Regions from separate parts of the Homo sapiens genome. Here regions 1 and 2 are each linked to region 3. Evidence: fine-mapped expression QTL. A gene starts in region 3. Each other region holds a variant in brackets. All regions are shown on one strand. Distances are between the middles of the regions.

What was found.
Region 1: its variant is fine-mapped to the expression of ATP6V1C1 in whole blood (INTERVAL, PIP above 0.99).
Region 2: its variant is fine-mapped to the expression of ATP6V1C1 in whole blood (TOPMed, PIP 0.98).

What each region holds. Positions count from the first base shown.
Region 1 is chr8:103,061,506-103,071,760 of GRCh38, forward strand. It overlaps ATP6V1C1 (ATPase H+ transporting V1 subunit C1), which reads left to right. Exons shown (of 13, transcript NM_001695.5): 9 at 1,450-1,542; 10 at 1,630-1,723; 11 at 3,209-3,306; 12 at 4,816-4,942; 13 at 7,147-10,255. The coding sequence ends at 7,242. Among named protein-coding and RNA genes, the nearest start is that of ATP6V1C1, 46 kb to the left of the region's middle. The variant G/A (reference allele first, on the strand shown) is at 3,776.
Region 2 is chr8:102,974,877-102,985,543 of GRCh38, forward strand. MAILR (macrophage interferon regulatory lncRNA) reads left to right here. Exons shown (of 3, transcript NR_126339.1): 3 at 2,711-3,000. Among named protein-coding and RNA genes, the nearest start is that of ATP6V1C1, 41 kb to the right of the region's middle. RefSeq lists an enhancer at 4,828-4,977. The variant C/G (reference allele first, on the strand shown) is at 5,338.
Region 3 is chr8:103,014,499-103,025,165 of GRCh38, forward strand. ATP6V1C1 (ATPase H+ transporting V1 subunit C1) reads left to right here and starts at 6,585. Exons shown (of 13, transcript NM_001695.5): 1 at 6,585-6,727. It also overlaps the pseudogene NPM1P52. RefSeq lists an enhancer at 6,815-7,024.

The DNA of each region.
Region 1 (10,255 bases), 47 kb after region 3:
TTTCTGATTTCAGAAGTACCACATTGTAAAACTGAACATTAAAAAACAAAGAAAACAACCAACAAAAGGGCACAAGGACCCTTTTGGTAGTGAGGGGTATGTTTATTGTCTAGATTGTGGTGATGGTTTCATGGGTATATGCGTATGTCCACACTTCAGATTATAGACATTAAATGCGTACAGTTTTCTGTATAACGATTATATCTCAGTAAAGCTGTTTAAAAAACACTAAACATTAGAAGAACTCCAGTATGTGAAAGACAGAAAGGAGAAGAGATTCCCCTCAGTAACATTCCCCTGCCCCAAGGTTATCGCTGTGGAACAGCTGCCTGTGCAGCCTTGTGGACCTCACATAAGGACTTCTATACAGGAGGCACTATAGGTAAATTCTGAAAGCCAAATTTGGACCATACTATCACAAGCGATACCATTCACCTTTCAAACAGTGGACTTTCACCCAAGGTATTACAGATTTAAATGACCATTAAAATTACCTGGCAGTTGTGTCTGGAAAGGTCTTTCTAGTGATGTCCATGGAGCTGTGACTGAATGGAAGTTCTGACCTCACTGGGACCTTCTAAAGCCTAAAATGGAGCCATGAGATGCATACAGGCACTTTTATTCAGAGATTATTTAGACAGTTGTGTTCATCAGGGTTTTTTTTTTTTTTTTTTTTTTTTTTTTTGACAGGGACTCACTCTGTCACCCAGGCTGGAGTGCAGTGGTGCAATCTCAGCTCACTGTAGCCTCAACCTCCCCAGCTCCAGTGATCCTCCCACCTCAGCCTCCCGAGTAGCTAGGACTACAGGCATGCACCATCACGCCTGGCTAGTTTTTGTATTTTTTGTACAGACACAGTCTTGCCATGTTGCCCAGGCTGGTCTCAAAGTCCTGAACTCAAGCAATCACCCACCTCAGCCTGCCAAAGTGTTGGGATTACAGACATAAGCCACTGCACCCAGCCTGTCAGTTTTTGATTGAGAGATGTCATGGGAGCAAAGGAAAGATCCAAGGTTTAAGGTACTGGCAATGCAGAGAGGCTAGGCTGGGCATCAGTGGGGCTGAGTTGGCCTGGAGAAAGGAAGAAAGAATTAGGCTTCCAGAAAAGAAGAGTGTGCTTATCAAGGAGACACTGGAAACAAAGCAGCTTGGCGCTGATGTTGATTGAAAAGTGTGGTTCTTAGCGTTTGGATGCTTTACTGGAGTTAATGTCTAATTTTGTTGGTTAGTAAGAAATAAATGTAGAGTGTTAAGGTATCATAAGCAAAATAAATCATAAACATTCAGTATCTTCGGTGTTTGAGGCAATCCAGATTGAAAAGCATTGAGGTGATTTGGGAAGGGCTATTATACCCTACTTTTCTCTTCCACCTGTTTCTGAATTTTGCCCTTAATATGAAAGACAGCAATACGTATAAATCTTTAAATGGACTTTTTTTTTTTCCATAGTGTTCTTTCAGAGGACCAAGACAGTTACCTGTGTAATGTCACCTTGTTTAGGAAGGCAGTTGATGACTTCAGACACAAAGCCAGAGAAAACAAGTAAGATTATTGTTTTTTTGTTTATTTACTTTGTTAGATCAGCTGTATACAATGTGAACAATTTTGTTTTTTTTCCCCCAAATTTAGATTCATTGTTCGTGACTTCCAGTATAATGAAGAGGAGATGAAAGCAGATAAAGAAGAAATGAACAGGCTTTCTACTGATAAGAAAAAACAATTTGTATGTGTTTTTAATATTTAGTATTATCAGTACTAAGCAGAAGAAAAAGTGGTATTGCTTTCCTTTGATTTAAAAGAAAGTAAAAATCTGCTTTGGTTTTAAGACATTTGATTTTAGTTTTTTTTTTTAATTGAATAATCAGAATGAATTTCCTCTAAAGCTTAACTGTTCTAGAGATAACTATTCTATTTCTAAGAAAGCTTTCTTCTAAAGCTTATGTCTATCTGAGATAGAATAGAGTAGATAGAATAGTTATCCTAAAATACATACTTAAAAAGAAATTACTCCACCTAAATCCATATCAGACATTAATTTTAAATGCAGTATTCTGGTTAACATCCTTGTAGGTGAAGGGTGATTTTAGTTAAGTAACGAAGTTCTTTTCAGTAAGACTTTTCACTTTCTTGAGGCAGATTTTTTCAATGCCTCAATCTTTTATTGAAGCAATTTGTATTTAAGCTATTGGAGAATTGGTGTGTTCTAGGTGTAATGGGAAACGAGTGGAATTGTGAAAATCAAAGATGGTGTTAACTTTCTTGCCATCTTCAAGTGTGGGATTACTGTGAAGACTAAAAGCTTGTTTGGAAAGGGAAACATAATGAGTGAAAATGTGTTTCTCTTAATAATGTAAGAGGAAATTAAGGGAAATATTGAAAATTATTTCCAAGTACTTTATAAGCCATATCATCTCAACTAGGAGGAAACTCATTCTAACCAAGTAATGTCAAAATAACCAGCTTTTTAGGGCAAACCCAAAATCCTTTTAAAAAATAGATATTTTGACAAGATTTTCACTTGTTTTGCTATCCTTTTGCTTAAATTAATTGTTTGGTACATCCAAATGAGCCTAATAATGTTATCCAAGGAAGTGTTAGCTGAATCTTTTAAGTATGGAGAGAGGAGGTATTTGAAATCCGCTTAATCCTACTAAATATTTGAAGTTTAAAAAGAACTTAACGCTATACAATTTAGAATGTAAAGAGGTTTTAGATGTCTAGACCAACTCCCTTTTTTACAGATGGGAAAACTAAGAGCTAGTGCTGTTAAATGACTTGCCTACATAACTGTTTATCTTTGTTACTAAGAAGTTGTTTGTAAGTTGAATTTCATTTTACATGTATTAAATGTTTTAGAGTGTTGTGTAGTAAATTCAGATCTTTATATTTTGATTTTCCAACCTAAGGCATTTCTATATTTTGTACCATTTTAACTACTTTTATTAAAATATATACCTTTTTCTGTGTTAGTGAATTGGTTCAATGCATTTTAGTGTCTGTTGAGATCTCTCTGTAGTGGCGAACCTTTTAATCTAATTTAAGATAAGGTATCTGAGATAATGAGAATAATAGTGAAACATGTAGAAAGTGAATTATGCGACTTAATTCTTCTATAGATTCCTAATAGGTAGTCACTTAAAAAAATATTTGGTCTATCTAATTGCTATTTCTAAGACCAAATTTGTGGTAATTTTTTTTCTTTTTATAGGGACCACTTGTACGGTGGCTGAAAGTGAATTTTAGTGAAGCATTTATTGCATGGATTCACGTGAAAGCATTACGGGTTTTCGTTGAGTCTGTTTTAAGGTAAAGCAAGTTAATTGCCAAACTTGGAACTGAAGAGTTCATAGATTCCTTACATTGGACCTCTTTATTATAACACAGTCCAGCAATAGGAAATTGATTTGGAGAAATCAAAGGGCCAATCATGAGACAGAGATTATCAGTATCATCATACAGCTTATAAAATGCATATTAGTCTTGTTCTTTAGCACCAGGTTTAGAAAAAGAGATTTATGCTGCCATACCCTCAGGTTCTTTTTCTTGTGTAGGTACTTAAAAGTAGATTAAATATTAACCAATATTTGTTTAAAAGGAAGATCCTTCAGGTGTTTTATATGTCATTGGATACATAGTATGCTAATGACTTATTGAAATCATTTCATATTAACCTAAAGTATTTTAATATTTTGAGATATTTAAAAAATCATATTCTGGTCCAATGTATGGGTTGCTCATATTAGAAATAGTTTTAAAAAACCCAAAACTTGGCCGG[G/A]TGCAGTGGCTCACGCCTGTAATCCCAGCACTTTGGGAGGCTGAGGCAGGCAGATCACGAGGTCCGATTGAGACCATCCTGGCTAACAGGGTGAAATCCTGTCTCTACTAAAAATATAAAAAAATTAGCCAAGTGTGGTGGCACGCGCCTGTAGTGCTGGCTACTTGGGAGACTGAGGCAGAGAATCACTTGAACCCAGGAGGTGGAGGTTGCAGTGAGCCGAGATTGTGCCACTGCACTATTGCACCACTGCACTCCAGCCTGGGCAACAGAGCGAGACTCCGCCTGAAAAAACAAAACACAAAACAAACAAAAAAACACCCCAAAACTTACATGTAACCATGCTCACTATTTTTAAATTTTTTCAAATTTTCAAACTATATGTGGGTAACCTCATGCTATTACCATAAAAGTATCTGCTGACCTTACTTCTTCTTATTTCCTGAGGATATTCATATATTACCTTAAAAATTGAATGGTAAGCCAGGCGTGGTGGCTCATGCCTGTAGTCCCAGCACTTTGGGAGGCCAAGGCGGGCAGATCATGAGGTCAAGAGATTGAGACCATGCTGGCCAACATGGTGAAACCCCGTCTCTACTAAAAATAGAAAAATCAGCTGGGCATGGTGGTATGTGCCTGTAATCCCAGCTACTCAGGAGGCTGAGGCAGGAGAATGGCTTGAACCCAGGAGGCGGAGATTGCAGTGAGCCAGGATTGCACCACTGCACTCCAGCCTGGCAACAGTAAGAATCCGTCTCAAAAGAAAAAAAAAATGAATGGTAATTGAAGTAATTCCTAGTAATTGGCGTAGAGATTTCTAGTGGACAGTGGGGACCAAAGGTTTGCGTTTCTGTTTATATTGAAGTTTTTTGTGTATATTAGTTTCAGTTTCTATATATATTAGTTGAACTTGTAAAGGTAAAGGGAGATATTCTCTCCCCGTTAACCATGATTAAAGAGTATGAGAATATTTGCTTTGAAAAGAAAATCTCTTTACATGTTTGCTTGTATTGCGTACTGTATTTCTGCTTTTTTGTAAGGTATGGCTTGCCAGTGAACTTCCAAGCAATGCTACTTCAGCCCAATAAGAAAACTTTGAAGAAACTGAGAGAAGTATTACATGAATTGTATAAACATCTAGACAGCAGTGCAGCAGCTATTATTGATGTAAGTACTTATTAGCCCAGTAGAGTAAGAATTGAAGTGAATTTCAGAAAAAAAATGATTGAAAGAAGATAGACAGAAAAGGGAGGGTAAGTATGAAACTTAATCATTTTTTATTACTTTGAGGTTCTCAATTTGTTATGTAAACATAGTAATTTACATTGTTTACCCTGTTTTATACTAATTATATCTGTGTTTTGCTTCTTGGCATTTCTACAAGCTAGTAATTATCTTGCTGTGTATCAGATGTTTATAGCTGCAGAAATACAGAAACCAGTGATACTAGTTATTTACAAAAACTATAAATTGCAGAGAGGAAGAAAATAAGCAGTTATTTTAATTTTATTTGGTAGAAGCGATAGAGTCAATAGATGAGTATTTTCAAGGTAGGTTCATTTTTCTAAAATGGCGTAGCTGGGCGTGGTGGGACATGTTGGTAGTCCCAGCAACTGAGGAGGCTGAGGCGGGAGGATCACTTGAGCCCAGGCCTTCGAGACCAACCTGGGTAACATAGTAAGATCCCATCTGAAAAAAGAAAAAAAAAAACAGACCAAAAAATGTATTATGTGTTTATATCTTCTTTTAAACAAAACTGTTATTTTTTAAACAAAAGAAGATATAAACAGAGTTACTTGTGTTTTTTTGTTGTTGCTGTTTAAAATTGTAGTGGGCCGCTGGGCGTGGTGGCTCACGCCTGTAATCCCAGCACTTTGGGAGGCCGAGGCGGGGGGATCACCTTAAGTCAGGAGTTTGAGACCGGCCTGGCCAACATGGTGAAACCCCGTCTCTACTAGAAATACAATAATTAGCTGGGCGTGGCAGCGGTCACCTATAATCCCAGCTACTCGGGAGCCTGAGGCAGGAGAATCGCTTGAACCTCGGGGGGTGGTTGCAGTGAGCCAAGATTGCGCCACTGCACTCCAGCCTGGGTGACAGAGGGAGACTCCGTCCCAAAAAAAAAAAAAAAAAAAATTGTAGTGGGCTTTTACTTTATATTTCTGGTTTTAAATATCTTGCTGATTTTTTTTTTTCTCTTTAAAAGTTTAGGGTAGATGGTAGCATCTCACATAGGCATTAATTAGAACTATGAAAAATCAGTTTTTCTTGATAGAAGGAAATGCGGGAAATGACTTGCTACACTTTTTTTCTTTTTCTTTTTTTTTTTTTTTTTTTCGAGATGGAGTTTCGCTCTTTTGCCCAGGCTGGAGTGAAGTGGCGTGATCTTGGCTCACTGCAGTCTCTGCCTCCTGGGTTCAGGCAGTTCTCCTGCCTCAGCCTCCTGAGTAGCTGGGATTATGCCTGGCTAATTTTTGTATTTTTAGTAGAGCTGCGGTTTCACCATGTTGGCCAGGCTGGTCTTGAACTCCTGACCTCAGGTGATCCGCCCACCTCGGCCTCCCAAAGTGCTAAGATTACAGGCGTGAGCCACCTTGCCCCCGGCCAACTTGCTCCACTTTCATGCAATTGTGGATAAAATGAGAGGTATAATTATTTGATACATAAATGTTCTAGCAGTAAATTCTTATAACATGCATTTATAATAAGTGTTATCCTTGCTTGTTTTTTGGCTCTGTTGCTCAGGCTAGAATGCAGTGGCATGGTTTTGGCTCACTGCAGCCTCAACCTCTATGCTCAAGTGATCCTCCCACCTCAGCCTTCCAAGTAGTTGGGACTATAGGCACGCAGTACCACTGCTGGTTAATGTTTTTATTTTTATTTTTTGTAGCGATAGAGTCTCACTATGTTGCCCAGACTGGTCTTGAACTCCTGGGCTCAAGGCCTTGGCCTCTCAAAGTGCTGATATTACAGAATAAGTATTACTTATAAATCATACTTGCTTTATTTTTACTCCATATTTTGTAAGTCTTGTATCCCATCAACTCAGTATTCTAAGTCCAAGATTTAAAAAGTTAATTTTTACAGTATACATAAAAAAGGTTGGTGGGATCATGCTAAATACATATGCAGTCAGAATGCTTGAACCTGGCTTTACCACTCACTGTCTGTGTTTCCTAGGAGAAGTCAGTCTTTCAGAGATTGTTTTCTCATTTGCAAAATGGGAATAATGTCTAACTCAGATAAATTAGCCTTAAGTGCATACATTTAGCCCAGAGTAGATGTTCAATAAAAAGGTAAATGTTAATACTTGCTTTCTTTTTTTGAGTTCTGTAAATACAAAATTGAATAATTGTCTGTTTTTTCCATAGGCTCCTATGGATATTCCAGGTTTAAACCTGAGTCAACAAGAATACTACCCCTATGTGTACTACAAGATTGATTGCAACTTGCTGGAATTCAAGTGAAAATGGGCTCCTCCCCCGACAATCCTGTCCTTGTGTTTGTGTGTGCTAACAGAAATAAGTTGCAGTATGGTCGTACTTTTAACTCTAGTATCCTTTGCTTGCTTCTTACGCCCTTTCCTAGGTGAATTCTCCCACAGTGGTCTGTATCTCAACATTTTCTTTTTAAAGGAAAAAATATATATATATAGTTTCTTTTTATTGATCAGGTCTGTAAATGTGTACTAAAAAAATCAGAGTTTATTTATAAACAAAATAGTTTATTTAAAGAGAAGGTCTCTTCCTTATTGATATCATGGTATGCATTAATTCCATTTGTTACTATTGTGCACAAAAGCCCTGTTCACAGGGGAATGGTGTAAACATTTATACTGTTTTGTTCACTGTATTTAGTAGACATAACTGTTGAATAGTTACTGAATCATGATGTAAAGAATATGTGACCATCTTCAGGTATGGGATTTCTGAACGTTTCAAATTTCAATCAATGAGCACTGTCAACACCCACAGGAGAGAATAAAATTACCTGTGCAAAGGTGTATTGTGGTGTGTGTAACTTAAGATTACAGTTCTGTTTGAGAGTTAAATGATGTCATAGCTCACTTGCTATGCTGCTTCCAGGATTTTGTTATATGCTGAGGTGTAACCATTTGTGTTGTCTGACTTTCGTATGATTTAATTGAGCCAAATTTGGGTCAGAACACAAATTTGAAGATGACTTTTCAGTATATGATGGGTATTTACATTTGAACACTAGAATTTTAGGTCTCTCAAATAATTAAGAATAGAGCCAGTTTTGAATAAAGTCTAGCAGAACTATGCAGCTTTAGTCATTTGTTTTGTCTAAGTCTGTATTTTATGTGTTGTCTTCTTAAGATCTATAATTTTGGCATTTATGTCATTTGTGACATAGTCTGAAAATAGAGACATTGTTGGCCTTTAAAATCTCAGAAATGAATGACTTAATTTAGTGTCCTGAAAGAGCTTTTAAAAGAGGATTTTGTGGCAATGTTTCTCTTACTACGTACTCACAGGTTTGCAAATGGGAAAAAAGTTTACATTTCAGTTTAGGGGCATATCTAAGCTATGCTATTCCCTTTAGAAAATTAGCCTCCAAAATCTTTTGTTTCAAAATATTATATTATTTCATAAATAATTTCAAGCAAATACAGACATCCACAATGTAGAACATGAGAGACCCCCTCCCTCAATTTCCACCTCCCAAGGGAAGTTTATGTATTTTTCTAGGCCCTTTTCTATGTCTTTACATCTCTGTCTCACACACACACACGTATACACACACACAGTTTATTTTTAATAAAATAGGATTATACCACACACATCCTGTCACTTGCTTTTTTGCTTAAGAGTATATCTAAGAGAATCCTTTGTGTCAGTGAAGCTGGAGCTACCTCATTCTTTTAACTGGCTGCGTGGCGTTCCATTGAGTGTCTGTCATCATGTGTTTAGCCGAGTGGATGGATAGTCTGCTTGTTTTTAGTTTTTGCTCTTAACAAACACTGCTGCAGTCAGCATCCTTGCACAGATTTCTTTGTATACTTGTATTAGTATTTCTGTAAGATCTGAGAAGTGGAATTTGTAGGGTCATAGGTTATGTACACTTAAGTTTTTGACACTCACTGCCAAGTCATCTGTCAGAATTCTAAACTAAAGACATGTTTGGAGTGTGGATTTATCTTCAGTTTTTCTTTGGACAAGAGGAAGCTGTGAAAGATTTTGCTATCAGAAAATTTTGGTTCTTTGTCTTTTGCACATGTTCTTTGAGTCTTAGTATCTGTAACGTGGCGCTACTCTCTCTATCATGGGGGGGCATGTTTTGACATTAAATTGACTTTTAAGAAAAACATGTCACTAACCTGAAGCTCAGCCACACAGTGACTTTTAAGGTTTTATTTAGACTTTACTGTTGTTCTCATGAGAGTAGGTACAGACTGCATAAGGTTTAGAATCCCAGCATATGTCTGAAACGACGGGACTTTCACTGTGATTTCCACCAGAGAAATTATAGCAGAGTGGCTGAGCATGTGCTCTGAGGCCAGGCCCCAGCTCTGCTGCTGACGAGCTGTGTGGTCCTGGGCAGAGTGGTCTCCGAGTTCCAGTCCCTCCTCTGTAAAATGGGCATGATTAGAGTGCCCACCGCATTAGGGATGTTGGGGTGAGTCAGTGTGACCCCACGTGCACAGAAAGTGCTGCGAGTGGTGCATGGTGAGAGGTTGATGCAGGTACTTAGCCCTTGGGGAACACAGGTAGTTCCTTTTCACTGTGTTTAATTTGGGAAAATCCAGATCCACATCATTGTAGAGTCTGAGGGTTAGAAGGAAGTCATTGTGTCTAACATAACAACAGAGCAGTTTGTGTCACTGAGCTCCAGTCTGTGCTGGATTATTGATATTGTTGGTGGCGGTCACCATTCCTGGAAAGGGACTGTCCCAAGCCACTTACCTTCCCGAGGAGTCTGCTGGTTCTCCTTGAGGATAGTGCTTAGATAACAGACTCATTAAACATTTACTGAGTGTCTGTCAGGGATCATTCACATCCACATCATCCTCCCGGCCCCTCCCCGTGTTGTTCATGGAGGGAGTACTGGCGGTCCCCATTTTCATGTATGGAGACTTCAGGTGAAAGAAGTTAAGTGAATTCTTTGTTGAGTCACAAATCTTGAGCCAGTCAGAATTTGAACCTAAGATTTTTGACTGCTGGTTGTCACACTTCCCGCCCCACACTCAACTGTTGTGTGAATGAGCCAGACACATTGCTTAACCTGAGTCCGAGATGGACAATGGTATAGGAAAGATATTCGGTATGGAGAATCAGATGTTAACTTGTGTTGCTATTTTTGTTTTGTTTTGTTTTGTTTTGTTTTTGAGACAAGGTCTTGCTCTGTCACCCAGGCTAGAGTGCAGTGGCATGATCAGGGCTTACTGCAGCCTCACCCTCGATTTCCTGGGCTCAAGCAATCCTCCCACCTCAGCCCCCAAGTAGCTGGGCCTACAGG
Region 2 (10,667 bases), 40 kb before region 3:
CTTGATTTGTGTTCGCTTTTGTAACTAATTTTAAAAATTAAGAAACCAGTGAAATCTGAGGGCAAAAAGAAAGACTTGCAGTGTGTATGAAAACAAGTAAAATGAACTAAGGTAAGTCACTAAAGAAATATGGTCACATAGGGTATGTAGCATGTGCCTGTAGTTCCAGCTACTCAGGAGACTGAGGAGGAAGGATCACTTGATCCCAGGCATTCAAGTGCAGCCTGGACAACATAGCAAGGAACTATCTCAAAAAAAAAAAAAAAAAAAAAAAAAAAAAAGTGGTCAAATTAGGTGTGGCCAGGAAATCTATGAAAGTTTTAGACAATAATTCACAACTCAAGAAGGATTAATCAATATATATAGGGATGGCTTGCGTAAGAAAGAAGAGGCAGAATATTTCTCAAGGGAGGTCTACTCAAACAAAAGGACTAGGCCCCATGTCAAAAAACTGGCCAACAAATGCACATTTAAACGCTGTTAAACGTTTAAAGTAGGTATGTTTAAATTATGATTTGCCTGCCTTAACCAACTTTTCAGGTTAACTAACCAACCTCTTACCAATCCTGATAAGAGGAATCCAATTAAATTTGATTCAGCGTTTTAGAGATAATACTAATCTATTAAGATAATAATTTGGCAGAAAGGTTTAATCAAGAGAGTGGAGCATAAACTGTATCGTGGATGTTATGTGGGATCTGAATGGATGGTTGGGGGTCAAAGCAAGGCACACGAGATGAAACAAACAGCATACAACTGTAGGGTTAGAAATGAGTAGGAATAGTCATTTCAACCTATGAGGTAGAACCCTGATAACTCCGAGTGTGGATCTCATTCCAGCAGTATCAGCAACACCTGGGAGCTTGTTAGAACTGCACATAGGGTGAGAGGAAGGAGAGGATCAGAAAAAATAGTGAATAGGTACTAGGCTTAATGCTTGGGTGATGAAATAATCTGTACAACAAACCCTCATGACACAAGTTTACTTATGTAACAAATCTGCACATGTACCTGTGAGCTTAAAAGTTAAAAAAAAAAAAAAAGAAAAGAAAAAAGAAAGAAATGCATCTTTCTGAGTGCTGTGGCTCACTCCTGTAATCCCAGCACTTTGGGAGGCTGAGGCAGAAGGATTGCTTGAGCCCAGGAGTTCAAGACCCGCCTGGGCAACATAATGAGACCCTGTCTTTACAAAAAATACAAAAACTTAGCCAGGTCTGGTGGCACATACCTGTAGTCCCAGCTGCTTGGGAAGCTGAGGCGGCAGGATCAATTGAGCCTGGGAGGTTGAGGCTTCAGTGAGCTATGATTGTGCCACTGCACTCCAGCCTGGGCAACAGAATGAGACCCTGTCTCAAAAAAAAAAAAAAAAAAAAGCATCTTTCAGGCCTCAGCCCAGACCCACTGAATCAGAATCTGCAATTTAACAAAACTCCAGGTAATTTAATTTCACATTAACCTGTGAGAAAGGCTGGTTTAGAGAGAGTGAGAGTCTTCCTAAACTGCACTGTAGAGTTAATATGGCACATATAAAACATAATGACAACTGAGTTATTAAGCACCTTCTATATGCCAGGCAAACTACCAGGTGCTTTGCAAACCTTGTCTTACTTATCTGAAAGATCCCAGTTTTGTAAAATAGAATTGATCTTTATTCTCAATAATGAAACAGTCTTTTCTGCTTTCTGCCATCCCTTTGGTTGAAGTTGGTATAAAGAATACATTAGTGTCTCAAAAATCTCAAATAATTGCTTTTTGAAATTCAGTATGTAAAATATTTTGACATAATTTTTTTTACTCCCTTCGTTGGCTGGGTTGCAAACTCTTACAGGTAGGAAGATCTCAAACTCCTTGATAATTTCAACCTATGAGAGAGAGGAAAAAAAAAACACAAGGGGAAACTCAAAAGCATTCTGGTTAGGACAGGGTAAAAAATAAATAAAATAAAATCAGCAAGAAATACACTCTATTAAGTGGAATTTGGAAATGATAAATCAGATTGAACCAAATCTTAGAGAGTTTGCAATAAAGTCTGGGTATTCTTACAGTGCTGCGTGTCTAAGCAGTTTATGCAAAAAGGGAGGGCCAAACCCTCTCTTTCCAAAGAAGGCAGTAAGACAGTCTGCCCTTTCCTTGCCCAGACTGGAAAACATGAAGTCCTTGTACCTTCTTGCCCCTCCCTGAGCTCAGCGTACAGCCCATACCGAACAGGGTAGAAGGAGTACCAGCAGCAACCCCGATGCTGGGATGTTGGGCAATAGTGGAGCACGATTAGTATGCCCATGCCTCACTCACTAGGGTGGTTTTCAGTAGACCTCCAGTTCTGACTAAGCTCCTCTCAACAAGATTCAGCCAGGCACTGTGGCACACGCCTGTAGTCCCAGCTACTTAGGAGGCTGCTGCAAGAGGATCGCCTGAACCCAGGAATTCGAGGCTGCAGTGAGCTGTGAGTGTGCCACTCCAGCCTGAACGACATTGCAAGACACCAGCCTCTAAAAAAAAAAAAAAATTTAAAAAACAAGAAAGATTCAGTGGTTCTTCACCCACTTGCAGACAGAGGGTCCCTAAAACGGTCAAGTGCGGGGTCCTAGTGCTCATTGCCATTGTGCTTAATTGTGACAGGAGTGGGGGCTGAGGGGATAGGAGGGCTGGGATAGGGGTGGGAGGGCATTCCTTTCCCTCAGGCTTTCACAGTGTACGTTTTGTATTCCAGAATCAGAAATCTGAGCGTAGGAAGAAGTGGGTTAGCCCTGGAGAAAGGAAAAGGAGGATCATGGTTCTCTGCAAAGAGCTGGAAGCTAAAAAGCAGGCTGTGTTTACTTACCAACCAGGACTCAGTGGGATCTTTGCCAGCTTCCAATATGGCCTTAAAAGTATATGAAATCCAAGAAATATTTCTGCAAAGCAAGAGATCTTCACTGCTTTATTTTCCACCACCTGAATCCTTGCAGTGAGTGTAGTGTGTATCTAATCAATCTATTAAAAAATACTTCAAAAGTTCTATATATGTATCAATATTTAATATTGTTTTTACATTATTTAAATGTTTTTCTAAATAATATTATAGTATATATATTCTGAAGCATTCTATTCAGTGACAAAGAATGATGTTTAGACAATTTACATTTATATAGGAAAACTCATAACCTGAATATGTCCTGTGGGATCAAACCACTGACCCTTCCAGGGTGGAAGAGACCTAAGGTAGTCAGCTTCCATCAAGCGGCCAGTTGGTCTCATTGAGGAATGGTGTCACATCAAGGGCTCAGTGTTGGTCTCTGTTGCAGATATATCAGACATTTGATAATGGCAGCAGCTGGATCAGTCTTGGTAAGGGTTGGAAGTATAGTTAGTCCTCACTTTGCATGGTCCCAATATGCACAAATCCTAGTTACCACCATTTAGTTAAATCACACCAGAACCCCAACAACATGGTTCAAATTTCAGCTACAACGTTATTAACTGTGCACAATTACACAAAGTACAAACCTCACTGTCAGCTCTTTAGTCCACAAATCACTATGTAAATAACAGATGCATAGCATGATCAATAACCAATCACACCTCTCCTTTCAAAGTCCACTAATGATTGGCCACTGCACATATGTTCAGTTCCTACACAGCAAAGCGTGTAGTTGTGTTGCTGATTTTCCTGTGAATGAAGCCACATGATGGTTTACAATAATGGATACTCAAAAGAGGAAATTGGCCAACAAAGATGAAAGCGCAGAAAAAAGTCCAAAAAGTAGTAATGCTAGAAATGAACTCCAAATTGAATGAGTTACAGAAAAACAGTTCACTGTGAGAATGTGGCCACTGCATCATTCAAGAGGATATGCAGCCAGAGGAACTTAGCAAAGGCAAACTTAACATAAATGAGGAAGGAAGTGTGGCAAAAAGCATGCTGTCTCAGAGGAAGCGGTCCTGGCAGAAACTTCACATTGAAGCAACTCTGGGAAATTTTTCATGACGCTGAAAACACAAAGGATAAAATGTTGGGAGCTGATCCAGTCTTAGAAAGGAGAACAATTCATCACGTCAGAGAAAAGATGCTCTCTCCATGTCGTAAGTTACACAAGAAGGTAAGCACTATCCAAATGACTCTTGTTGTTTCATTTACAATTTATTTACTCTTGCTATTTGTTTTCTTTTTCTTTTTTTGAGAGGGACTCTCACTCTGTAGCCCAGGCTGGAGTGCAGTGGCGCAATCTCGACTCACTGCAAACTCTGCCTCCAGGTTCAAGCAATTCTCCTGCCTCAGCCTCTCAAGTAGCTGGAATTACAGGTGTACACCACCATGCCCAGCTAATTTTTGTATTTTTAGTGGAGACGAGGTTTCACCATGTTGGCCAGGCTGGTCTCAAACTCCTGACCTCAGGTGATCCACCTGCCTTGGCCTCCCAAATTGCTGGGATTGCAGCCGTGAGCCACCGTGCCCGGTCTACTCTTGCTATTTATTTTCTATGTTGTTTATTTACGTAGAAATTTAATATTTCTAATGTTTAAATTACTAACGTTTAAAAACCTTAGATAATATACATTTAATAGTTTATTTTGAGCAAAGAACAATTCATGAATTGGTAGTTCTCAGAATCAAAAGAAATTCAGAATGCTTTGTTGCAGCAGCATGGGCAGTGAGCTTTTACACAAAGGGAAGATGAAAGTGTACTTCATTGGATTAGGTGGAAAGACCCTAGTTAGAGGTTAGCTGGTGTTTTCTTATTGGTAGTCTTTAGTTTTGTTTTACTCTTTACACTGGGCTCCAGTCTGCTTACATATAGGAACCTAAAGTGGTAGGGTTGCCTCCGTCTTGTTAAAAGAAAAACTTCAGCTGAATTAAATTTAAAGGAGTTTAATTGAGCAATGAATGATTCACGAATTGGGCAGTCCCCAGAATCACAGCAGATTCGGGGACTCCAGAGAAGGCTTGTGGTTAGAACAAATTTATAAACAAAAAAAGGGAAGTGATGTACAGAAATCAGCAGTGAGGTACAGAAACAGCTGGATTGGTTACAGGCTGGCATTTGCTTTATTTGAACATGGTTTCAACACTTAGCAGGCTATGAGTGGCTGAAATATGGCTGCTGGGATTGGCCAAAAATGCAGCTATTGTTACAGGTGCATGCTTCTAAATTAGGATTTCAATTTTGTATGCCTATTAAGCTAAGTTACAGTTTGTCCACAAGGACTCAAATATAGAAGCACGAAGTCCTTCTCAGGCCATATTTAGTTTGCTTTAACAGTCTAATGCCCTCCCTGTTAGAATTTTTGTTAAAAACAATTATTCTCTGCTTTTGGTCAGCCTCTTATGAGAGACTGAACAATACTTAGGCATAGGCA[C/G]CCCTCCCTGTCACCATCACAGGTAAGTTGTCTTTGTCTCTGTGGAACTCACAAGTCATGATGTTAGGCTCATTGAAGAAAGATTCCCTTTGTTGTTCACATCATTATTGTCACTCTGATCAAGGTGAGAGCATCTAATGTACCACTGATGGCTGAGAGCATGCATTTAAGACTCTTGACAGAATACAGCAAACAGGGTGATTACAATGATGACCATCAGGAGGATAATACCAAGAGACTAGAGTATGCTCCTTAGCCAAGGTCCTCATGAATCAAACCAGCTAAAATTGAATAAATCAAGGAATGAACCAGAGGGGGATTCAACTTGTTTTAACCAGGTGGCCTGTTTGTTAATTTCTTGTGATTGAGTTTCTAATACAAGAGGTATTTATCCAGGCACAACAGGAGGAATAGGATAAAATGAGCATATTGCATAGACTCTTCCTTGTTCAGCCAATAGTCCAATGCAAGTCTATTATCTAAAACTACTCAAGTAAGGGAATTTAGAGATTTTTGTTGGATAGCTATAGCCTTAGCTGTAGAACCCGCAATAGTAACTAATGTCAAAGAAAAATTTTTGACCTTTATTTCATTTGTAGTCATCCCAAGCCATGGAAAAATGGACCTAACATATGATGCCCCCTTGGCAGGGTTGTCATCTGCTGGTCAGTTTCTTTTTAATCTATGATGCAGGTTTAGAGGGGTGTACTGATGTTTAGCTTCTGACTGGTTATGTAGTGACAATGGCACCATTAAAATCCCTAGTCCCCATTGGTCTTTCATTCTCCATCTGTCAAGGTATGGGGTGGTCCAAGCATATGGCTGACAGTTAAATTCTCTGCTTATAAAGATGTACCTAGGACATTCCTGAAAGCCTGGTTGTGGGGTGGCGGAGGGCAGTGGTAGGAAGGATGTACCTAGGGTGAACAAGCCTCCTCCTTGGGAGACTTCAGTTATGGAGTAATTAGTTGGCATCAGCAGTTTCTAACCAAGAGACTGATACTGAGTTATTACGTCCTAGAAGGCTACCAAAATACGTATGTAGATAGGCATTCTTGTAAATAGCTCTGTTAATGTTCTCCTTTTTTGTGCATAGCCTCCTTGCAATATGGTCAGCAGACCTGGCCATCCTATTCTATGGTTGGGTTAAACAAGAAGTAAGAATAAAGGGGTCTAGAAGTTTAACTCTATAAAGGGACCAACAGTATAATCTAAACAGATTGTTGCATTTGAGATTCTGGCAAATTGAGTCACAAGATATACTAATGGGTCTCTAAAAAGCCATGCAAGTATTTTGACTTAGCATGGAAAATCCAGAATTTAGCTAAATTTTCTGCAGAAGCTATAGACTGTGAGATTCTAATTATGGCATTATCGTGCCATACACAGAAAGGAAGAGTAAGAAACAGGAGATGAAAAGAACAGGGGTTCCATGATAGGAAGAGGAGGTACTTTTTTTTTTTTTTTTTTGAGATGGAGTCTTGCTCTGTCACCCAGGCTGGATTGCAGTGGCACTATCTCGGCTCACTGCAAGCTCCACCTCCCAGGTTCACGCCACTCACCTGCCTCAGCCTCCCGAGTAGCTGGGACTACAGGCACCCGCCACCATGCCCGACTAATTTTTTGTATTTTTAGTAGAGACGGGGTTTCACTGTGTTAGCCAGGATGGTCTTGATCTTCTGACCTCGTGATCTGCCCTCCTCGGCCTCCCAAAGTGCTGGGATTACAGGCGTGAGCCACTGCACCCACCCCAGGAAGAGGAGGTTCTTGATCTCTGATCTTGGGAAGGCTGTCTACATTCAAGATGCCATCTGCTTTGGGGAGAGATGTTCCTGGCCAACTTTACCTTGAGATCCTTAACTGGTGGTCAGTTCTGAGAGTCTGGAAGGGCCCTCTTGAGTTGAGAAACATTGGTCCAAAACTCAAGGCTTTACTGTAGTGTAAGTGGTGAGAAGTTGGTGTGGTCCCTTCCAGTGAGACTCAAGGGCAGACTTTCTTTGATATAAATTCCAAAAGACCCAGTTTCCAAGTTCTAGACCATGAGGATTCTGATAATCAGTCAGTGGGTCACAGAAAGCTACTATTACCAGATAGAAATACAGTAAGTCCTCAATTGATGTCGTCGTTGATAGTTTTATGGAAACAATGATTTTAAGCAAAACAGTGTTCCTTGAATAATGTATTTCATTCAATGTTGTTTCATTTTAACGTTGATGAGAAAAATTAAATTTGTTTTATTATACATTGTTTTGCTTAAAATCACACTTTCCAAGAGCTGATCAATGATGTTGTGAGAACTTATTGCATGCTTCAGCATAATTTATCAAGGTCTGGCAATATTGAGTCATACCACAGGTTACAAATATGGGAGGTACATGAAGCTGTATTATTACGGGCATAGGTCTTTCAGTACTATTTCATGAGGTGTCATCTTGTGCTTTCCAGCATGGGTAGATATAATTGCCATTAAGCCCAGTGTTCAAACTTTTGGCCAGGCAATCCAGAAGATTCCATCATTTTGGCCAATTTTAGTTTTAGGTTGCCATTTGCCTATTCAACCTTTCCAGAAGACTAGGGATAAGGACAATGGTCATGCTATTTTGTTTGTAAACCTTTAAAAAAATTGTTTAATAATTTGTCCAGTAGGCCAGGCGTGGTGGCTAATGCCTGTAATTCCAGCACTTTGGGAGGCTAAGGCAGGCGGATCACCTGAGGTCAAGAGTTTGAGATCAGCCTGGCCAACATGGTGAAACTTTGTCTCTACTAAAAGTACAAAAATTAGCCAGATGGTGGTACATGCCTGTAATCCCAGCTACTTGGGAGCCTGAGGCAGGAGAATCACTTGAACACAGGAGGCGAAGGTTGCAGTGAGCCGAGACCATGCCACTGCACCCCAGCCTGGATAACAGAGCAAGACTCTGCCTCAAAAATAACAATAACAATAATAATAATAATAATAATAATAATAATAATAATAATAATAAATTTGTCCAGTAAAATGAGTTCCTCTATCACTGGAAATCTTTCTAGGGATATCCCATAAAGGAAACATATGCTCTGTTTTTTGTATTTTTTTGTGTTGTTTTTTTTTTGCTACTGTTGTGGCATCAGCCTTCCTGCATGGCAAGGCCTCAATCCACCCTGAGAACAGGCATACAGTTACAGGAACATACTGGTAGCCCATTGAGGGTAGCAACTAAATGAAGTTCTTTTGTAGGTGTTCACATGGTCCAGCAGGTGGTAGAAATGTACCGTTTGAAACCTTAATGGTTTTCACAGAATTATGAATCTGATAAATCAGACTTGGGTTATGAACCATTTTTGCAACTTTAGAACAATTACTCCACCAATACTTTTTCATAATTTGAACCATTTTGTCTACACTCTGGTGAGCTGTGGAGTGCAGAGCCTTTAATACTGGTAGTTTTAAGGACTTAGGGAGGACTAGGTGGCTGTCAGGGCCCTCAGTGAGTTCACATTTGGTATTAAATTTGCATCCTTTTAAGTGCCAATTTTGGTTTTCTAATTCAGGTGCATAGAATCGTTTATTTAACAAATTATCATAGGTGATTTGATCTGAATTAATGTTATAGAGTTCAACCAAATTATATATCCTAACATGTTTAGTGACAGCTACCTTAGCATGGAAGTCCACTAAGGCATTGTCTTGATATTTAGGTTCAGTTTTACAAGTGAGCTTCAATTTTAATAATAGCAACTTGTGAGGGCAGCAAAATAGCAGAAGGAAGTTCATTTGCCTGGGGCTCATTTTCGGTGGTGGACCCACTTGAAATGAGGACCCCTCTTTGCTTCTAATACATGCCAAAATCATGGACTACCCCCAAAGGCTTATCTACTGTCTGTATAAATGTTGTCTGATTTGCCCTGAGATATTTGACAGGCCTGAGTGAGAGCATGTACCTCTGCTGGTTGGGCTGACTTCAACTGGGGAAGAGCTCCCTTTTCTGTTAATTCATTCTGGGTAGTCCAGGCATGCCCTCCTTGGTATTTTACTTCCGCATTTTTAGCATAAAATCCATCAGCAAAATGTATTATCTCAAGGTGTTTAATGGGGCATCTTATAAATCAGTTGAGGAGTCAATAGCTGTGATATGAGATTTACATAGTTGTGGTCCTCACCTTTGTCAAGTAAGGGTAGTAGGGTAGAAGGGTTAAGTAGATTGCAGCATTATTTTATTTATTTATTTATTTATTTATTTATTTATTTTGTTTTATTTTGAGACGGAGCCTCTGTCGCTCAAGCTGGAGTGCAGTGGCACAATCTCGGGTCACTGCAACCTCCGCCTCCCAGATTCAAGCAGTTCTCCTGCCTCAGCCTCCCAAATAGCTGGGATTACAGGCACCTGCCACCATGTCTGGCTAAATTTTTGTATTTTTTTAGTAGAGATGGGGTTTCACCATGTTGGCCAGGCTGGTCTCAAACTCCTGACCTCAACTGATCCGTCCACCTCAGGCTCCCAAAGTGCTGGGATTACAGGTGTGAGCCACCATGCCCAGCCAAGATTGCAGCATTTTATATGAGATTAGAAGGAGACAGGAGAAGAATTTCAAAAGATGTTAGTCTACTTGCTGAGAAATGTTGAGTTTGACTGGAATTTAATAGACTTTCCAAAGCGTGTGGAGCTTGCGAATAAAATTCATTTCCTAAAATCAGCTCAGATGAGACCTCAACCAATCTGGATGCTTCTGCTACTACCTTTAAACAATTGGGATCCACCTTAGCTACTGGGTCTAATTGCAGCCTATTAAGTGATGGGCCTATGTTTTCCTCTGTGTTCTTAAGTAAGAATTTCTAAAGCCTCGTTGTTATGTTCATGAATGAATGAAGTGAAAGTGATACAGGTTTGCTATAATTTCAGAGTCCTAAGGCTGGAGGTTGTGGTAGGGCCAGTTTTGGTTGGCTGAAGCCTGTTCATGATTATCCTCCCACGCTAAAGGCTCTGGGTCAGAGTTTTGTGCAAGTTCATACAAGCGAGATGCCAACAAGGAAAGATTTGGGACCTAAGACCTACAATATCCTGCAAATTCAAAGGAACCTCTTAGTTGTCTTTTAGACATGGATCAAGAGAAACTTTGAATAATTTTCATTCTTTCAGGTGACAGGAAAGTTTCTTCTGCAGGCAACAGTGGACATTTCCTCTAGAAAATTGGAGTCTTTCCATGGAAGCCTATGGCTTTTGTAAGCTAATTGTTGTAAGACGTAGATTGAGGCCAGGTGCGGTGGCTCACGCCTGTAATCCCAGCAATTTGGAAGGCCGAGGTGGGCGGACCACGAGGTCAGGAGATCGAGACCATCCTGGCTAACATGG
Region 3 (10,667 bases):
ATGCCATTAAAAGTGGGTATAAATATGACCCAAACTGCCCTACTCTGTCTACTGGGTAGCCTCACTCTGCAGGAGTAGTCACCAAACTGTAACAATGCCTCTTCAATAAAGCTGTTTTCTTCTACCTCTGGCTTGCCCTTGAATTCTTTCCTGGGAAAAGCCAAGAATCCTCATGGGCTAAGCTCCACTTTGGAGCTTGCCTGCCCTGCATCAAACCTAGCTGACATCTCAAAGTGGCGATGTGACTACAATTTATTATATGATTCAATTTTATTCTCATAACAATAGAGGTAGATATTATTGTCTCACCTTACAGATTAAAAAACTGAGGGTATTATACATTATGCAGTAAGTCATGAATTTGGGAATCTGAGAGTGTTATAAGTCAAGTACCAGGTTTCTCAGCATGAGCACGGTTGACATTTTGGATCAGATAATTCTGTTTGGGGTCTGTCCTGTGCATTTTAAGACGTTTAGCATCATTCCTGGCCTTTACCCACCAGGTACTAGTGGCATCCCTACCCTTAGGCTGTGACAACCAAAAATGTCTCAGACATTGCCAAATGTCCTCAGGTTGAGAATCATGGGTCTAGTATATTCTATTCATTACCCTTGAGCAATGAACTCCGAAAATTCAAGATATAAACCTCAATACCATTTTCAACACTTCACCTTCACAGGGGCTTAGTTCTTAATGAAATCTTTAATAAATGGTGTTGATGATGAAAACAAACATAAATAATGATGTAATAAACATATTTTGCATAAATACTTTTCTATCTTTTGCATGATTAACATTCTAATGACAGTCAAATGGAACAAACATTTTAAAGGCCTCTCATTCATACTGTTAATTGCTGACCAAAGAGTTGTACCAATTTACATTTCTACTAGTAGTGTAAGAGTCTATCTTACCACACCCTCACCAGCATTGGCTATTATGTGTATATTTCTATCTTTGCTAATATGAGTTATTTCTATTTATTTTAATATTTGTGTTTATAAAATTTTGTATTGTTCTTATTTATATTTTTGAGCACTAGTAAGAGTGAATATTCCCCGTATGTTATAGCCAATAGCACTTCTTTTTTTCTTAACTGTTTTGTGCTTTTTGCTCATTTGTCTTTTGGATGGTCTTAGTATTGTTCCTTTTTTTTTGAGACAGAGTCTTGCTCTGTCACCCAGGCTGGAGTGCAGTGTCGCTATCTTGGCTCATTGCAACCTCTGCCTCCCAGGTTCAAGCAATTCTCATCCCTCAGCCTCCTGAGTAGCTGGGATGACAGGCATACACCACCACACCTTAATAATTTTTGTATTTTTTAGTAGAGACAAGGTTTTGCAATGTTGGCCTGGCTGGTCTTAAACTCCCGGCCTCAAGTGATCCGTCTTCCTTGGCCTCCCAAAGTGCTGGGATTACAGGCATGAGCCACCGTGCTCAGCCCTTAGTATTGCTTTTATCAATTTGTTCAAGCTCTCTGTATATTATAACCTGGATAGCATATATGTCTACAAAAGAATTTTGCATAAAGGCATTTGAGCGTAGACTTTATTAAAGCTCTGGGAAGATGGCAAAGGATTTAAATCACAGCAACTGAAGTAAGCTCAAATTGAGTTCTAAATATTCCTCTTTTTATAAGTCCCTTGTCATTTGTCTTTCTCTTTTCTCTTTCTTTCCTTCTCTTCCCTATGCCTCTCTCCCATCTCTTCATTCTCCAATTTCTGTTGCTTTTCAGTGGAAACTAGCTCAAGTTATTTCTTTGGTCTTTGCCTCCATTTAACCATACTCTCAGTTTTTCTTCCACCCTAGTGGAAGATATTAGTTTATCAAGGTATTTTCTTAAACAAGGACACTTAGTTTCCTAAGGGAAATGCCAGTAACAACTTTCAAGATATCTTGACTATTATACCAGAGTGAAAAAGAGTTCTGAATCCTGTTGCCCTATTTGCTTCAAATACTTTCTCCACTTTGTTTAACTAATGGATACTAGGCTTAATACCTGGGTGATGAAATAATCTGTACAACAAACCTCCTTGACACAAGTTTACCTATGTAACAAACCTGCGCACGTACCCCTGAACTTAAAATAAAAGTTAAAAAATATTTAAAAAATTAAAAAAAGAAAACAGTAATCAAAAAACAAAATAATTGGTTGCTGGTATGATTCCATCCTGCACAGCTGTTCTCTGGAGCGTGGTTGTTTACCTCTGCCTGGCTTCTCTCCTACCTAAGTGCTTGCCGCCACCCATGGAAGATTTGACGGACATGGACATCAGCCTCCTGAGGCCCCAGAACTATCTTTTTGGTTGTGACTAGAGGCCAACAAAGATTATCACTTTAAGGTGGATAATGATGAAAATGAGCACAAGTTATCTTTAAGAATGGTCAGTTTAGGGGCTGGTAGAAAGGATGGATTTTATATTGTTGAAGCAGAAGTAATGAACTATGAAGGCAGTCCAATTAAAGTAATACTAGCAACTTTAAAAAGGTATGTACAGTCAATGGTTTATCTTGGGGGCTTTGAAATAACATTGCCTGTGGCCTTACACTCAGTGTGTTTCAGGGCCTGGGCATATGAGTACACAGCACTTAACAGGTATGAAGGAAGATACAAAGCAGGACATGAAGAGGAGGGAGATGTGAGACTTTTCAGTATATCTGGAAAGTGATCTGCCCCTGGAAGTGGGTACATTTCTACAAGAAAAAAATAAAACTTCTTGCTGATGAAAATCATGATGATGATGAAGAGGAAGAACATTTTGATGAAGGGAAAACTGAAGAAAAAGCTCTAGTGATGAAATTTATACAGGATACTCCATCCAAAAAATGCACAAAGATCAAACCAAAATAAAAAAGACTCAGAACTATCAAGATTAAGACCAAAAGGTCAAGAATCCTTCAAAAACAGGGGGAAAAAACCTCTTAAAACACCAAAAGGACCTAGTTTTGTAGAATATATTAAAAGCAAAAATGCAAGCAAGTATAGAAAAAGTTGGTTCTCTTCCCAAAGCTAAGTGCATCAATTATGTGAAGAATTACTTCTGGATGACCAACTAGGAGGCTATTCACCATCTCTGGCAGTGGAAGAAGTCTCTTTAAGAACACAGTTTAGGCCAAGCGTGGTGGCTCATGCCTGTAACCCTAGCACTTTGGGAGGCCAAGGTGGGCAGATCACTTGAGGTCAGGAGTTCAAAACCAGCCTGGCCAACATGGTGAAACCTTGTCTCTCCAAAAATAAATAAATAAATAAATAAAAATACAAAAAATTTGCCAGGCGTGGTGGTGGATGCCTGTATTCCCAGCTACTTGGGAGGCTGAGACAGGAGAATCGCTTGAACCTGGGAGGCAGAGGTTGCAGTGAGCAGAGATCACGCCATTGCATTCCAGCATGGGCAACAGAGTGAGACTCTGTCTCAAAAAAAAAAAAAAATAGTTTAAACAGCTTGTTAAAATTTTCTTTCTTCTTTTTTTTTTTAAATCTTTTAACCCAATAGTTCTTTTAGAGAAAAAAATTACCTGTCATTTCGTTAATAGTTCTTTTAGAGAAAAAAATTATCTGTCATTTCATTTCTGTAACAGTTGATATCTAACTGTCCTTTTTACAATTCAGAGTGAGAAGTTCCCTAGCACGTTGGATAAATATTGTCCAGGTTCCATTGCCAAAAATGTGTTGTCCAAAATGCCCCTGTAGTTTTTAAAGATGAAACTCCATCGTTTGCTTGTTTTTTTTTTTGAGACAGAGTCTTGCTCTGTCACTCAGGCTGGAGGGCAGTGGCACTATCTTGGCTCACTGCAGCCTCTGGCTCCCAGGCTCAAGCAATTCTCCTGCCTCAGCCTCCCAAGCAGCTGGGATTACAGGCATGCACCACCACACCCAGCTAATTTTTGTATTTTTAGTAGAGATGGCATTTTGCCATGTTGGTCAGGAAGGTGTCAAACTCCTGGCCTCAAGTGATCTGCCCACCTCAGCCTCCCAAAGTGCTGGGATTACAGGTGTGAGCCACCACGCCTGGCTCTTTGCTTGGTTTTCAGTATATATGTATGTATGGAATATTATGATAGGACATAGTAGTAGCTGTGGTCAGACAAATGGAAATGGTGGGAAGACAAAAATATGTAACTGAAATAAGCTCAATATTTTAATAAAGGAAAAAATAAATTTTTTCCCCGGAAAAAGTTGTAAGAAAAAAATAAATCTTCTCCCATGCATCTTAGGAGTGCTTTAAACTTAGATGTTTGGAGATGAGTAGTCTTTAGATAGGTGGAAATGGAGGAAAAGGTGTGACATGCCCATGGCTACCTAGTATGCTTCTATGCATAGTACAGTTTTTAAAAAGTGAGTTGCTTCTCTGTAAAAACATATTACTTTACTATTAGAAACCACTGGAGAGCAATCATGCCCTGCTTATATTAAACATCTTTGCTAGATTTTTATTTGATTTTTTGAGATGGGGTCTTGCTCTGTTGCCCAGGCTGGAGTGTATGGTGCAATTTTAGCTCACTGCAGCCTCGAACTCCTGGGCTCAAGGGGTCCTCCCACCTCAGCCTCCCGAGTAGCTGGGACTATAGGCATGCACCACCATGCCCAGCTATGTTTCCTAAATTTTTAAGTGAGATACATTAAACCTCATAAAAATTAGAGCTAACATTTATTGAACACTCTGTTGTACTGCCTCCCAAGTATAACATGGTAATTAAAACACTGGAGGCCAGGCACGATGGCTCACCCCTGTAATCCCAGCACTTTGGGAGGGCCAAGTGGGCAGATCACTTGACCTCAGGACTTGGAGACCAGCTTGGCCAACATGAGGAAAACCCGTCTCTACTAAAAATACAAAAATTAGTTGGGTGTGATGGTGCACGCCTGTAGTCCCAGCTACTTAGGAGGGCAAGGCACAAGAATCGCTTGAACCCGGGAGGTGGAGTTTGCAGTGAGCTGAGATCGCACCACTGCTCTCCAACCTGGGCGACAGGGCGAGACTCCATCTCAAAAAAAACCCCAAAACTAAAAAAAAAACCCCAAATGTTGGAAAGTTGCGCGAGGTATAATTCAGTTTAGAAATTAAGAATCCAAGACAAAAAGTCTGCCTCAGGACCACACACAAGCACGAAGAAACCAAGATAGTTCAAGCATGGACCTTAAAACTGCACTGTCTAAGGCTGTTGTCACTGGTCTCATGTGGCTATTTAAATTTTAATTAAAGTGAAATAAATTTTAAAATTCAGTTACTAAGTCACACTAACCATATTTCAAGTGCTCAATGGCTCCATGTAGCTAGTGGGTACTGTACAGACAGCACAGGATAACATTTGCATCATGGCAGAAAGTTTTAGTGGACCTAACCAAAAAAAAAATGCCTTTAGGCTCATTTCGTGATGGCAGATAAAAGCCTCTGGAATTCTGATAAGTTTCTGAAGCCATGTTATAGAACTGGTTATTGTAATTGCATGAACTTCATCCAAAACTGGTGAAAGCGTCAGGTTGGGGATAGTCTGGTGGTTGTTACTTTCTGTCCAACCTAATACTGAGGCTCTGAGAAATTCTGTGGTGAATTTCTGTAGGGGGACACAGCAGAAAAGGCATAGTATAGGTCAGAAAACCTGGGTCCTATAATACATAGTAATAATGACGACCATTTACTGGTTGTTTCCTATGTACCAGGCACTGTGCTAACCACAGGCTTCATTTAATCCTCACAATACCTGTGTAAGGTATTATTACCACCACTTTGCATGTGAACAGGCTGAAATTCAGAGGAGTAAGGTCACACAACTAGTAAGTAGGAGAGCCTGGATTCAACACCTGGTATCTATTCCCTTGCGCTGAACAACTCCGTGCCCTCACTTTCTTCATCTGTAGATCTAAAAGGATTAAATTAGAACATCTCAAAATTTCTACTACTTCTAAAACTCTGTGTTCTAAATTAGGACATTACTATCTATCTCCCCAAGCTAATGAAATAAGCAGGGTTCCTGGGAGGAGCTTGTTACCTATTTTTCTCCAAAGGAGATGCTTTCCCCTGTCTATGCCTCTGTCCTAAAACCTTTGGTTTCCCACTATCTAATGTGGTTTCAACTATCTATGAGGCGCTTTCGTGGCAAGGAGTGATTCTCTCCAGTAGGCAATCCTAAGAACGAGCGCAGTGCTTGGCGCACAGTAAATGCTCCATGGACCATTTATGAAATTAAGTCTAAGTGGACTTCAGGAAAATGTGAATCTGCTAAAATGAACTACTAGCCAGTATACTAGGTAGAAAACCCAGCTGACGAAGAAAACCCCAAGTGGAGAAGCCCTTGTAGGGGGTTGGAGACAATTTCTGACCCGCAGAAACCTGCAGTGGCGCTGACGTTTACAAGTGGTGGACAAAACGCCACTTGCAACACTGGAAGAAGCGGAAAACCCCACCCACTCTGGAACAACAGCGATCAGCCCCGAATATAGGGTCCCCTTGCCGCCCCGTAGCCTCCTAGTCCCGCCCCTCTCCCAAGGCCCGGCAGTGGCAGCGGCTGCGGCTGCGCAGTGGCGCGGGCGTAGGCGGAGCAGCGCGCGCCGCGGTCAGCTGACTGCTGGGCTGGCACGTGACTTGTTCTGTGTTCGCTTGGGTAGAGGAAGCCGTGAGGCCGGAGCTTAGGTCGGGAAGGGATGGATCGCTGAGCCGATAGCGTCCGCTAGGCTGTCTGCCTCGGTACCTGTTACTGCTGCTACTTCCTCGTTTGACACCTTCCTGGGTCAGTGAGCGATGGCTCTCCCCGGATGGGGAGTCCTGGTCAGGCCGAAGCATGAGCTCCGGTCGCTGCCTGGGAGGGACGCGGGTGGGTGCGGGGGCAGAGACCGTGGCGTTGGAGCTGGAGCTGGCTGGGTGGCTGTGTCTGGTTTCTCGGCGCCAATTCACCGTCTTGGGCCTAGGTTCCGTCTCTAAGGAAGAGAAGGAGGGAAAAAGAGAAAGAGCTCTCGTGGGTAGTTAATGACAGGCAGAAAGGAGAGATACAGCGGTCTGGGATCTTTCTTCTTGGGTAGGAATGCACGCCGCCTGATTGATTGAGGGGAATGAAGTGATAGGTCCAGGTGAGGCTATGGAGTGGTGTGTGTGAGGTCACAGCTAGCGCAAGTGCCTTCACTGGGTGTGTGTTGGGGGGGGCGCGGGTGTCGGGGGTCGGGGGTGGTGGGATGACAGTTTAAAGGCCTAGGAGCCCCTAACTGCAGGCAAGGAACCCTCACAGAGTACACAAGGTCCCTCTAGGAATGAGAAAGAACAGGAATCCAGAGAACTCAACTATTTTTTAGTAGAATGGGGGAGGGTAGGCAAACAAAACAGAACAAAACAAAACAAACCCCTAGAAAAGAACTTGGTGAGAGTCACATAAGGCATATTGAATCACTTGAGAAACAGGAGTAAGGGGGAAGCTAGTATTCTTTTCAGAGGAAAATTCTGGTATGTTAGGGAAAAATCACATGCTTCAGTGCGAGCCCAGTACTTAGCGCCGCTCTGGGAATGGAACGGGTGGGATGTGAACAGTCTATCCTTAGGAGTTAGCACTAACGTTGGAGAGAAAAGTCTACACACAGGACACGTTAAAATACGATGCAGTTTATGTATACTTACCAAAAAGAGAATGCGAAGTGCTTTGAAAGTGTGGAGCAACGACACATGTGTAAACTGGCACTATGGGAAGATATTCTGGAGGAAAGAAAACTTGAGTCTTGGCAAGCCCTCAGGATTTGAACAGGTTGAGAGAAATGGGGATAATTTTACAGGCAGGGAAAGCCACAGGATTTGAAAGCCTGAAGATGGGGGTAGGGAATGCTTCTGGTGGAGTCAGAAGTAGCTTTTACAGTGGATTGCACTGCGGAGAAGTGGGAAAGAAAGTTGGGAGTCAGGTAACGAGGACTTTTGAATGGTAGTCGTTTACTTATTCATGCAAATAATGTGTACTGAATACATGCTGTATGCAGGTACAGTGCTGATGGTAGGGTTTAGAAAATTGTCTTTATAGAGCTTACAGGCAAGCAGAGGGGATGGATTTTAAAAATCAAGCAAGCGTGAAATGTGCTTTGAAGGAATAACAGTGGTATGAAAGAGTGTAGTAGGGGCATGTGTATTATGGAAGATTTTAAAAAGGCATTGCTAAGAATATGACTTTTTAAAGATTAAAACAATTTTATTTATATTCTTCATACCCTCTCGCTCTGAGAGGGTATGACTTTTGACCTGAGATCTGAAAAGAGACTGAAAAGGGAATGTGAAGGTGTGAGTGAAAAGAACATTCCAGGCCTGGCAGGGTGGCTCGTGACTATAATCCCAACATTTTGGGAGGCTGAGGTGGGAGGATTGCCTGAGGCCAGGAGTTCAGGACCAGCCTGGGCAACATAGTGAGACCACCGTCTCTACCAAAAATAAAAAAATAACTAGCTGGGAGTGGTGGTGTGTGCTTGTAGTCCTAGCTGCTCGGGAGGCTGAGGCGAGAGGATCATTTGAGCCCAGTAGTTCGAGGCTGCAGTGAGCTGTGATCATGCCACTGCACTCCCTCCTGGGAAACAGAGCTAGACCCTGTCTCTGAAAAACGAAAAAGGAACATTTCAGGCTGAAGCAACAGCGTATGTCAAGGCCCTGAAATGTGAAGAGGAAGAAAGCTTTTCAGCCTTTTTGAAAGGCTAGCATGGCTGAAACGGGGAGGGAGAGAGGCAGGTGGAGAAAGCTGGGGTCACGCCAAGCAGAGCTTTTATTCTAAAAACAGAGGGAAGCCAGTGAAGATTACAGGCAGTGGATTGAGACAGGTTGTGGCTTTTTTTTTTTTTTTTTGGTGGGGGGGAGATAATGTGGAGGGTGGCAAAAGTGAATGAGGGGAGACCCGCTCAGGGGAACATTGTTGTAATCCACTGAAGGATTTGAAGACAAGATACCTTCTCTCTCCACTGAGGACTTCAGAATGTTTAACTGTATTCACTTTTAGAGGGTTCAGGACTTGGGGAAGGGAAAGAATGATTCGATTCTATTTGTACCCTTCACAGGGTAGTCGTAACTACCCTCGAGGCAGTCCTGAAGTACATAGCAGAGGCTCTTTTGCAAAAATTTGTTTTGGCTTTTCAAATTTATCCTTTTGTAAGGTCATCTATTTCAGAATATCTTTTATTGAAATATAGTTACAGGGAGGGATCACTTTCATATTTATTTTGTTCTCACAGTTCTTTGAAAGACAGTGGATGAAAATGCTATTCATTGTATAGATGGGAACCTGGAGCTAGAGAAACACGTAAAGTGATTTGGCTGAGTCCGGAGTAACTGCCACAGTTTTCTGACTGCTGATGTATTCCTGCTGATTACCTACACAGTACTAACCACAGTCACATCTAGAGAAAAGGGCGAGTTTTTTGAAGTGCACAGTAGTCTTTGATTCAGCATTTTTTTTTGGGGGGGGGGAACTTCTCCCTGAAGAGTCAGCACTTTTGATGAACTTTTTCTAGTAGAACAGCTTCAAAGGAATTGGCAGTGGTGGGCTATGTCTTATCTATAATCTTGGATAGAGCTGTTCAATTTACAGTTCATCTGGAGGAAATAATGAACAATAAGGTGAACTGAAAGTGCTCAGGTTGTCAATCACAGTTCTTTGGCAAAAAGTGAGTCTCAAATTATGCTGAAGACTGAGCCTCAGGGTTCTGTCTCAGAAGTCCTGGATCTTTTTCTCTTTTGGTATACCTTGTAGGGACTAGATAAAATCTAAAGAAACAGTACTCAGGATCTAACTAAATGCTGAGAGCTAGATAGTGTAATTCAGCTTTTAAAACTTGGCACAAAATACTCATTTTTATTTTTTTGGTATATTAGTCTTAGGAGCCTCATGTACATTAGTTTTTTCAACCTAAAAAGAAACTTCAGGGCTTCAAAAATCTGATTTTGTGATTATTTCCACAACTCACGAGATAATACCATTGGCCAACTGGAATGCCAAAGTAAACCTTTGCCAAAGGTCTCCATGTAGTTTACCCGTCCCTAAGCAGCAAGTCTTCTTTTGAACTTGGTTCTGCTTAGGAGTACTACAGTTTTGACTGAGTACCTCCTACTTAAAATTTTGCTCTTGTACATATTTAAATCTGTCTACAGGTTACATCTTTTTCACTCTTTGGGTGTGGAATTATATATCATTTATAAATTAATTCATGTTAGATTTCCATTTTTCATCAATTTTTAAAGACAGACATAGTATAAACATTAGCATAGTGCCCTTGGGACGCTTAGGCAGTGAACCAAGGCAGTCTAAAATTTCCTATTGACATGAGTGATTCTTGGAACTAGAAATTTCAAACTATATTCTTGATGCTGAAACAAAATTTTTTATCCAGCAGGACATCTACTTCTAAGATTATACCATGTGCAAATGTACTATGCGTTTATTGAGTTAAAAAAATGAGCCAGGTAGGCAGTGGAGGAGAGGTGCTTTGGTTACTATGCATTTATTGAGTTAAAAAATGAGCCAGGTAGGCAGTGGAGGAGAAGTGCTTTGGTTACATCGGGGATAAAAGAGTATTAACTGTATATCTAAAATGTGGGGTGTGTGTGTGTGTGTCTGTGTGAGTATGTGTGTGTATTTGAAAATAAAATGCTAGGTAAGTGATGTTTTATAGAAAGGGATCGATGGATCTTCTAAGATATTTTAAACAGACTATCAATGA